Homo sapiens: one gene and its partners. The protein of the gene in region 2 interacts with the protein of the main gene of each other region in a pairwise test. Each region holds a gene or a part of one and is shown on either strand. Other genes may lie near its edges.

Region 1 (3,655 bases), on a different chromosome or scaffold from region 2:
AGTATATTAACGAAAATAACCTTTTGATGTATGTTTTTAAAACTGTTTTTTACCAATTGACCGTTTGTTTTGTCATTACATTTATTACAGATTTTGAGTATCCTAACATAGTAAAATTTATCAGTGTTTTATTTTACAGTGTGTATGGCTCTATGACCTAGAAAGACCTTTTTGGTGCAGAAGTTATAAAAAAATATTCCTATGTTTTCTTCTAGCATTTTTATGGTTTCAGTCTTTTTTATGTATGATAAAAATCATTTGTATATCTGAAACTTACTTGGCATAAGGAGTTAAATAGGGATGCAACTTAATTTTTTTTCTCAGAAGGATACCTGGTTATTATATCACCAGTTATTTAAAAAATCAGCCTTTCCTTATTGATTTGAAGTGCAACCTATATTGTTGTATTATGTTCTCACATGTCTTTAGGTCTATTTCTGGATTCTATTCTGTTTTATTAACCCATTTGTCTAATCATGTACCACTGCCAAACTTTTAATTATCATAGCTATATAATGTTTAATATTTGGTAGGCCTTGTTGCCCCTACCTTTCCTCTTTTTCAGAATTTTCCTGGCTATTCTTGCATGTTTGTTTTTCCATGTGAAATTTAGAATCAGCTTGTCTGGTTCTCAAAATTATCCTGTTGACATTTTTTTATTGGGATAGTATTAAATTTATAGATTAATTTTGGAAGAATTGACATCTTTACAATATTGAGTCTTCCTGTCCAGGAACAGGGTATGTTTTTAAAGTTTTATTTGACTCCTTTTATGTCTTTCAGTGGTGTTTTCAGATTTTCTTCATGTAGGGATTTTATTGTTAAATTTATTCCTGGGTACTTCATCTTTTTAGTTGTTTTTGTACATAATAGCTTCTGTATTTTTTAGCTGATTATTTGTATGTGGGAAAGTTATTGATTTTGATAAATTTATCTTAAACAATATGCCAACTTGCTGAATTTGTATTTATGGTCATTTACCAGGTGATTCTTCTGTTCTAGAGATACATAATCACATCTGAAATTGATAAGAATTTTGTCCTTTCTTTTCTAGTTTTATATGTTTTATTTCTTTCTCTTGTTTAATTGCATCTGCTAGTATTGCCAGGACAGTGTTAAATAATAGTGCCGATAGTGGGCATTCTGTAATGTTGGTTCTCAGTTTGAGATTTATATTTATCATGTCAAGGTGGTAGCTGGCCATGTTATCAGAATTAACTTTCCTTCTAGATGATTATTTACTTTTACTTTATTTATGAATGATGAATTGGATGAATAGATTTGTCAGTATTGAACTATCCTTGCCTTCTGGTATGAATCTCACTTGCATCCTGATGTATTAAGTTTTTTTGGATTCTGTTTGTTAATATTTTTATTTGGAATTTTTCCATTAGTACTTGTAAATAAGATTAGTTGACATTATTTTTGTTAGATTTTGAGTTAATTGCTATCCTGGCTTTATTACTTTTCATGTATGTAAAACTTGAAGCTAACAAATTTTATTAGTGAAGATTTTTAGGGCAATATTTTTAAAACTTTTTTGAGTATGACTCAGAAATGGCTTTTATAACGTGATCTTTGTATGTGTATATAAATAAAGATTTCATGGCAGCACTTATTCCTACTCCGTATAATACGAGTATAATACTTTGTTATGCCATTTTAATATTTTCTGTCCCATTTATTTACTTTTAAAAAATGTTAAGTGTAGCCTAATAAAAGGTCACAAACTGGAGATTGAAAAACACTTAACTTTGGTTCCTGTTTCAGAAAATAGTGTAATTAATTCATCAGTTGTTGATGTATAATTGCTTCATGAGATGATTATGAAAGTAATTTGTAAATTCTGTGGTACTTTTCAAATGTATATCATTTACTGAGTCTGATTATCACACGGCCTGGCATATAATAAGTACTCTATAAGTATTGGCTGATTTCTAATAGGTCTGAAAATTTATCTTTTAGAATTTTTTCTTCAGTTGGTTTAGCGAGTTTCCCTTTGATGTTGAAAATGTTTTTTTTTAAAAATCTAACCTAGACCATCCCAAATCATGAATTACTGTTGTGTGAAACAGTGAGACTACTGTTTTTATGCCACAGGTTTATAATTATGCAAATAAATACTACATCTTTGCATTCATTTTGGTTTTACTTACCGAATTTTCATTCCAGGAATGTCTGAATCTGAACAGGCTCTTAAAGGTACTTCTCAGATTAAATTACTCTCATCTGAAGATATAGAAGGGATGCGACTTGTATGTAGGGTAAGAGTGATTTTTTCTCCATGGGGTAGGAAATGTTTAAGCAGTACTTAGACATGAAGTCAGTGGTTTGCTGATTTATAAAGATAGCAAATGTTATATTGTTAGACTGACCAGCCATGCTTTTTTTTTTTTTTTAACTTTTTTTTGAGACAGAGTTTCACTCTGTCGCCCAGGCTGGAGTGCAGTGGCGTGATCTCTGCTCACTGCAACCTCCACCTTCTGTTTTCAAGCGATTCTTCTGCCTCAGCCTCCTGAGTAGCTGGGATTACAGGTGCCCACCACCACACCTGGCTAATTTTTGTATTTTTAGTAGAGATGGGGTTTCACCATGTTGCCCAGGCTGGTCTCGAACTCCTGACCTCGTGATCTGCCCACCTTGGCCTCCCAAAATGCTGGGATTACAGGCGTGAGCCACCACACCTGGCCTTTTTTTGTATTTTTAGTAGATACAGGGTTTCACCATGTTGGCCAGGCTGGTCTCTAACTCCTGACGTAAGGTGATCTGCCCGCCTCGGCCTCCCACAGTGCTGGGATTACAGGCGTGAGCCATTGTGCCCGGTTTAGCCATGCTTTTCATTAAACTATTGTTAGTATATAATTTTAGTCAACAGTTTTCTTCTTAAAAGCCTATTTCAGAATTAATCTGGTGGATAGTCTATATTTAGATGACAATCCTTTTCATTTATTTAATGATATTTAAAAACATTTTGTCATTTTATTTTCACAAGTCATCATAACATAGGACAGAGTTTAAGGCTCAGAGGGTTATGCTGTAGGCCTTTTTGTGAAATACCTATGATGAGTGGTAGTAGTGGTTGGTACTCATTAGGTGAAATCACATATTTATTCTGAAGGAAAATATAATACATTGATATTATTCATTTAAGTAAGATTCTTAAGGTTTCTATTCAGTGCTTTAAAAGTGATTTGATTCTAATTTTGTTTGATATCCTGGAGAACTTTCTCTTCCTATGACTTGCTGTGATTCTTTGAGGAATTCATTCATCTATTTTTTTTTTTTTGAGACAGGGTCTTGCTATCACTCAGGCTAGAGTACAGTGGCACAATCATAGATCATATAGATCATAGCTCATAGCTTACTGTAACTCCAAACTCCTGGGCTCAAGCTATCCTTCCACCTCAGCCTCCTGAGTAGCTGGGATCACAGGCATGTGCCACTACACCTGACTACTTTTTTTTTTTTTTTTTTTAAGAGACAGGATCTCACTATGTTGCCCAGGCTCATCTGTTCTTTTTTCTTTTCCTCTACTTTTCCCCATTATAGAAATGAGAGAAGACTACCTCTATCAGTTGATGATAGTTTAGATTTCTTAGGATGTATATTTTCACATAGAAATCAGCCAACCTTACTGCTGCTTGCTTGTTAACCC
Region 2 (3,655 bases):
AAGCCAAGACCACGTTGGAAGTGCTCCTCTACCTGTGGGTGATGCTTTGTGAGGGGATGCCTTTCAATGAAGTCACTCATAACTGAGGGCTGTAAAATTAGACAGAGGCAGCCCATGAAAAGCATCAGCATTGCTCTCTAGGAGAGTGATTCTTTCTTTACTTTGTGCATTTGGGAGGCCGCTTTATTAAAGCTCCAGCAGGTAGCTCCTTGGAGCACAGTTTATGCCATCCTAAGAAGAGTGGCTGTGAACCTAAGGACCCACAGAAATGACCACCAGGAGCTAATGAGGTGACATTGCCTGGGATTTTCATCGGACCAATTTCTCCTATAATGTCCGGATGGCCCAGGGCTGGCTCTTCTTGCTTTGGCACACAGAGCAGACCTACCCCAAATCTCCTGTCCAAGGTCATTTTTCCACAACATCCTTCTCTGCCAGAGTCCAGGGTCTTCCTGGCACTTCTGGCCTGGGTCTCAGGGCTGTAGGAAGACCTTGAGCTTGTAGAAAGCTCTTCTAGTGTTGGTTACGCTAGCCGGGGTCCCTGGCCTCTGCACGGGCTCTGTCCTATGGCCCCAGAATAGCCTATGCCCTCCCAGACGACAACTTTTCTCTTCAAGGGCTGATGCTTTTCATGGGCTGCCTCTTTCTAATTTTATAGCCCTCACTCTTCAGTGACTTCATTCAAAGGTGTCCCCATCACAAAGCATCACCCAGAGGCAGAGGAGCACTTCCAAGCTGGCCTCTCCCTGTAATATGGTTGAATTATTTGATCTTACAAAATAAAGAACTTTGACACTTACCAGACACTTTACTTAGCATTTAAGGGTGCACCAAAATCCTCTGTTAACCAGCACACATTTGAGTAGTAAGTATCTTTTTTACTTTAGATCATTATCTTGCAATATTCACACTCTGGTTCCCAGCTTCTCTATAATATGTGCAGATGCCTGGGCACCCAGCTTAAATGTGCACACTGATGATATGCTCACAGCTAATGATTTAATTAGAAACTACTCATGTGTAGAATTTGAAACTGTGATTCTAATTCACAAAGTGTTCTGCGGATTTTAAATGTTTGTCTTCTAAGAAAAGATATAATTTTCTCACTTTATCCAAGATCCCAAATTTTGAAAAATGCTGCAAGCTACCTTTACGTTTTGGAAATATGAAATCACTTTATTACACTAAGAAATATGGCTGCATATTTATATTTTCCTTGAGAGAGATTACAGATTTCTTTGGACCAGTCTCATGAATGGATAGCCTCTATTGTCACATCTGCCTGAAGAACTTTGTTATCTTGAGAAAGCCAAGATTGGCAGCCTACATTCATACCACTCAGGTTTCAGAGTCCTCCATTTAATGATCTCACTCTTTCTTCTGCCATTTCCTTAGCCGAATGTTTCTGCTTGACCTAGTGTTGTCTTGGTTTTGCAGACCCCTCTTCATGGGCATCCTGTAAGTGCCTCTTTCCTGAATTTCTAAGCATTTGGAGACTTGGGCTTCCACAAAAACACTTTAAAGTTGGGAGAACACTCTTCTCAGCTTTAGCAGAGATCACAGAGGAACGAGGATTCCATTATCCCTGCTCTGCTTACTAAATGCAGGATAAAGACCGTTTTGCTGAGGGAGAAATTATATTATTTTTGCATTCTCTTTTCCTGAAGTGCTGACTTTCTGGCCCTTGTTGTACATGGAAAGTGCAGTGGCGTGGAGCATCTTATATAATGGAGGGTAGCAAAATATATACCTCATAAAAAGTGGATGCCTGTGTTTAGATCTCTGCACCCACGGTACTGAGCATCTGGATAGAAGGCAGCTTAAGATAGCTCAGAGTTCATCTTCCTTCAGTGTTTCCTTATTACTCGAAATAATCTAGATTTTGTAGCACTATTTAACCATGCCTGATCAAAAGTAGGCTCCTTTAGAAACCTAGTTGGGTCCCCTTTGAAAAGCTGTCTGTAGCTCTTGTACCCTCAAACCACAGCTGTTGAAGTAGATTTGGTCTTACACCTGCGATAAAAGCCAGCAAATTACCTAATCACAAGGGATTTGAGTTTCTTTATGCCAGTGTATCTAGGACCCTCTCCCTGCACACGCGCTTCTGTCCATTTGCCCAACCTTTTGTTCATTCTTTGATGTGCAATTTTTTCGAATAGTCTCTATCAATTGTACTGTGGGTGACAGTCAAGGGAACACTTAATTCTGGGTAGATGCATGTGGCTTTTGTCAGCACCAAGCCTGGGCCTCATGCTTTCAAGTGCCTGCACACTGTAGTGCATTGCAAAATGAAGTCCTTTTCAAACGTGCACTATAGAATAAGTTGGAAGTTCAGGCAGAGGGAGGGAAATAAATAAGAAAAAAAGTTAGCCAGGGCCTAGAGACAGAGTTCTTTTCATTTCTCATCACCTCCAACACCCTTGGATCACACAGCGCGATTTTTATAACCTGTCATCCCTAAAAGCTCCGCCATGCCGTCTTCATTAATAGCCATCTAACACCGTGGCCCTGCTTTCAGGTACAATTCCTCCACTCATTAAGTCAGTTGTCCAAAACGAAGAAGGGCTGACGACCAACGAGGGGCTCAAGATGCTGGTGACCATCTCCTGTATCCTGGTGGGGGTCTTGCTGCTGTTTGTGCTCCTGCTGGTTGTGCGGAGGAGGCGGCGGGAGCAGAGGCTAAAGAGGCTGCGAGGTAGGTCCAGGCCCAGCTGTCCACCTACGCGTGTCCCCTGCTGCTCTGCAGCCAATGGGAGAGATGCCAGCTGGAGAACAAACCTCAAAAGGGAGTGACTCTTCCCTCTTTAACCCAGGTCCCTCCACTGCCTGGTTCTCTGACATTCCTTCAGCGAGACTGCAGAGCCTCAGGGAAGAGCAATAAGAATGTTCCTATCTCGGTCAGAAATCAGGTGAAAGCCAACCTGTCCCCTAAATCCTAGCTGTTGGTATGCAAGGAAAATTAATTTTTTAACTCTAGTCTCTTAAATTTTCAGTGGGTCCAGCAAAGCCACCAATTGTGGCTTTCTATGAAAAGATCTATCAGATTTGCTCTGGGAATGAGAATTACTTGACTGACTGGAAGTGGAAATTGAGGGCTTAGGATACTGGTGAAGCATTGTGAGGCAGAGGACACATGCCATCCCAAATTAGAAACGGGAGCTGAAGCCCAGTGTAAGAGTTTCACTCTAATGTAGCAAAAACATAATGAAGGCTGGAGAAGCCAGGCCAGATGAGCTCCATTGTGAACAGACACCATGATTATAATGTCCAGCCCCGTGTCGTTCTGTGATGAGGCTGTTCTCAGCTTCTGGCCAAGAGCCCTTACTTGCCCTTGCTCTGCAATGTGAGGACAGGGAGTTATTTCAAATATGAAACTGTGCAGACGTGTTCCCAGGTCCTTTGCCCTTTACCAGTGAGGGTGTTTAACTAAGCCACTTTTTCGGTAACGTGTATTACAAGGGATTTTCATTTTAATATCAGTGCAGTGTGGGATACTGCTATGCAGCATCCTATGTGTGTTTCAAAGTTATGTTCAAAGTACAAATCTGGAAGCACTCTCTCCTCAAAACATATCCCAAACTTTACTGATACATTTAGAAAACGTTGACCTCTTCTGTAAATACTTAATTTGACCATAATCCACTTAGAGCAGAGA
Region 3 (3,655 bases), on a different chromosome or scaffold from region 2:
GAGAGGCTTGGCTTGCCTGTAAGAACAACTGCATGACATCCTTTTCTTACACCATGGTGTTGGATAACTCCTAGATGTAATACAGCCCCACTTAATTTTTGTGTAGTTTTGGTCAGTTTTTTTTAGTATTCAGTGTAATGCTATGTGTATGCTGATAGCTGCTGGCATTAGCTGATCTACTCAATAAGTATTATGTTATTTTTTAAAGCCATCCATCCATCCATCCATCCATCCATCCATCCATCCATCCATCCATCCATTCATCTTGGGCTCAAAGCTGTACCTGGAACACACCGAGTATGTTCTCACTTTACGTGCTATTCTTGCTCCCCCAGATGCTCCTCCCCCAGATAATCATATGTATGCACTCAAAGTTCCCCTCAAGTATCACTGTATCAGAAAGGCCTTCTCTGATTACCCTATAAAACTGCCCCCTCCCCATCACTTTCTATTCCTTTGTCCTTCTTTATTTTCCTTCGTTACATATTTACCGAGTAGTATTTGATAAATACGACTTATTCATTTATTATGTATTCCCTTACCCCTCTATAATCTACACTTCTTGAGAGCAGAAACCTGATGTAATTTTTCCTGCTATAGCTCCAGCTATGACAACGGTATGGTGCATAGTAGTGTGTTGATATGTCTTCTTGGCTGTGTTATAATTTCCCATATTGTTTTTTAGCTATTATAAACATAGATAGCTGTCATCGTATATTGCATTTGTCATTCTTTTCTTATTCCTAGCTTTGATTACAATGGTCTTACACATTTTCTTAGAATCATGTGTTGGAGTCAGAGGCCAGAGTAGTTTCCCTATATCTGGCCACTGCTTCTTCAGCTTACCGGGAAGAAGACTAAGATTGTTTTCTTTCATAGTCAACTCTTGATGTAAGCTTGCTGGGTTCAAACTCTCTCTGATATCCTCTTTCCCTTCCCCCTGCCTTTAAAAATTTTGCGTTGTGCGAGCAAGAGAGCTTAAAAGGTGGGTCCTAGCTGGAAGGTGTAAGGATACACATGACTTTCTACCCGGGAAAGGAATATATAGTCTGTAAATCCCAGGACAAAAAAATCATTGGTAAAATTTAAGTGGTTTCAACATGGCATTAATGTATCATTAAAAAAAGAGAATACTTTTGGTTTCTTGTTTAATTGTTATTTATGTGATCTAGAAGTGGTGATTCATTTCTGAATGGAAAGAAGTGTTGCAGTATTGTCTTCTCTGTGAGGATAGAAAATAAAATTCCTTGCTAAATGTTAACATGGGAACATCTTAGAGGTGACCAAGAGCCACAGTCCTGTATTTTTATGAGAATGCAATCTTAGATTTACTTATTTATTTTTGGCGACAGGGTCTTGCCCTGTCACCCAGGCTGTTGTGCAGTGGCTTGATCTTGGCTCATTGCAGCCTCCACCTCCTGGGCTCAAGGGATCCTCCCACCTTAGCCTCCTGAGGACCTGGGACCACAGGCATATGCCTCTATACCTGGCTATTTTTTTTTTTTTAAATTATTGACACAGAGTCTCCCTATGTTGCCCAGGCTAGTCTCAAGCTCCTGGGCTCAAGGGATCCCTTCACCTTGGCCTCCCAAAATGCTGAGATTACAGGCATGAGCCACTGTGCCTGGCCTATAATCCTAAATTTACATTAGTTGTAAGAACTTTAGAAAACTTGTTAACTGCTGAGCTTATTGCAGGTTTAATAAGCCTACCCTGCCCTACAGCTTGTATTTTAATACAAAGTGGAAGAAGAATTAATTGACCTCTGGCTAAAATTACTAATAGAATTGATTCCTATTTCTTTTGACCTTAAGTTTAAATTTCTTAAAGGACTAGTTCCCCAAGAGGTAAACAACCACAAGATTTCTTCAACATTAAGTGATAAATAATTGTGAACTGTAGGGTTTTTTTTTTTTGTAGTTTGTTTTTGATAATGGTATTTCTCCACCATTTTTGTTCTATAACTAGATAGCAGAGGGAGAGAACAAAACCTCTAAGAGTTGGCGCCATCCACTTAGCAGGCCTCCAGCAAGATCTCCGATGACTCTTGTGAAGCAGCAGGCGCCAAGTGATGAAGGTGAGATGGTGACCCTTTTTGGGATTTTTTTTTTTTTTTTTGGTGTGTAAAACAAACTATTGTAAAAAAAATTGCTGAATAGAAAAAAAATTCAACAAGTAGCAAATACGTACTATTAGGAGATCATACATAATAAATAATTTACAGGTAAAAGGAATTTGGAACTTAGAGGTAAAGACGTACTTCATATAAGCTAGCCTTATTACTGGTAAAAGTCTTCCAGTTTTATGTCATGGGGTAAAATCAGTCAGCCTTGACATGTTTTAGGGTTCTACAGAAGAAGCTGAGACTCATTTCTCTAAAGGTGTTAGATTTTAGAGTTAACGTGCTGTAGGTTTCTTTACATTGTCTTTACTTTTAACTTCAACTCTTTACATTAATTTAACCACCTTCAGTAAAAGTCTATGTGCCATATCCTTTTCCATATCCTTTTGTAACTGGTGTGGGGTGAAACATCCTTTTTCCTTCACTAGATCGCTGTGATGCAGCTGGATGTAACGCAGTTTCATTTACAATCATTTACCATTCCTAGATGTAAATTTATCTTTTTCCCCCTTTTGTTCTTTTTTCAAGACAGGGTCTCGCTCTGTTATTCATGCTGGAGTGCAGTGGAGGGTGATCACGGCTCACTGCAGCCTCAACCTCCCAGGCCTAAGTGATCCTCCTACCTCAGCCTCCCAAGCAGCTGGGACCACAAGCATGCACCATCATGCTTGGTTAATTTAAAAAAAAAATTTTTTTTTGTAGAGATGGGTTTTGCTATTGCCCAGGCTAGTCTTGAACTCCTGAGCTCAAGCATTTCTCCTGCCTCAGCCCCGCAAAGTGCTGAGATTATAAGCATTAGCCACTGCATGCCTGGTTACCCTTCTCACCTTTCTTTTATAAAAAAGAAATTTTTGTTGCCTCAAATTAAAAATCAGATCCCTGATTCGTAAGTGTCTTGTATATGTCTCCTAGCATCATGAAGGCCTTATTTTTTCTGTGTTTAGAGGATTAATTCAGGCAGGTTTTCTGTTAAGAGTCCTTCTCTGAAGTATTCTCCAGTTTTACTTATGGAAATTATTACCTAAGGTCATGTGTCTGTGAGAATACTGTTAAGTGAGTAACAAGAAGCTCAAGTTTCTTGTTTAAATAAATTTATCAGAGTAGGTAGATATCTTTCACAGATTTTTTCCCCCTTTCACTCACTTTTCACTTATGTCCCATGTTTAGTTAGAAAACAAGATCATGGCAGGGCATAGTGGCTGACTCCTGCAGTCCCAGCTGCCTGGGAAGCAGAGGTGGGAGCATTGCTTGAGCTCAGGAGTTTAAGACCAGCCTGGGCAACTTGGGGAGACCCTGTATCATAAAAAAGTAAAAATATCATGAATGTAGGGATTAGGGATCATAGTAGTTTGTATGAAACCAATCCAGGGTTGAATTCTGATTCAAGTAATAGAAGTAATGAAACATATTTGCATTGATTTCCATATATCATAATGTTGAGTTCTTTTTCTTTTTTTTTTGCTACTTTATTATACCCAGTACAAACCATTTTCCCTTTAGTGTTAAGACATATGACAATTCTGTGTAAAGTAA

What was found.
Region 1: the proteins of DSCAM (region 2) and METAP1 interact in a two-hybrid assay, tested with the Homo sapiens proteins (one large-scale study listed by BioGRID and IntAct).
Region 3: the proteins of DSCAM (region 2) and KDM4C interact in a two-hybrid assay, tested with the Homo sapiens proteins (one large-scale study listed by BioGRID and IntAct).

What each region holds. Positions count from the first base shown.
Region 1 is NC_000004.12:99,037,202-99,040,856, forward strand, and holds part of METAP1 (methionine aminopeptidase 1), read left to right. Parts: exon of another isoform or gene 1-740; intron 741-2,172; coding exon 2,173-2,264; intron 2,265-3,655. UniProt on the Homo sapiens protein: Cotranslationally removes the N-terminal methionine from nascent proteins. The N-terminal methionine is often cleaved when the second residue in the primary sequence is small and uncharged (Met-Ala-, Cys, Gly, Pro, Ser, Thr, or Val).
Region 2 is NC_000021.9:40,074,077-40,077,731, reverse strand, and holds part of DSCAM (cell adhesion molecule DSCAM isoform CHD2-42 precursor), read left to right. Parts: intron 1-2,518; coding exon 2,519-2,695; intron 2,696-3,655. UniProt on the Homo sapiens protein: Cell adhesion molecule that plays a role in neuronal self-avoidance. Promotes repulsion between specific neuronal processes of either the same cell or the same subtype of cells.
Region 3 is NC_000009.12:6,988,448-6,992,102, forward strand, and holds part of KDM4C (lysine-specific demethylase 4C), read left to right. Parts: intron 1-1,968; coding exon 1,969-2,077; intron 2,078-3,655.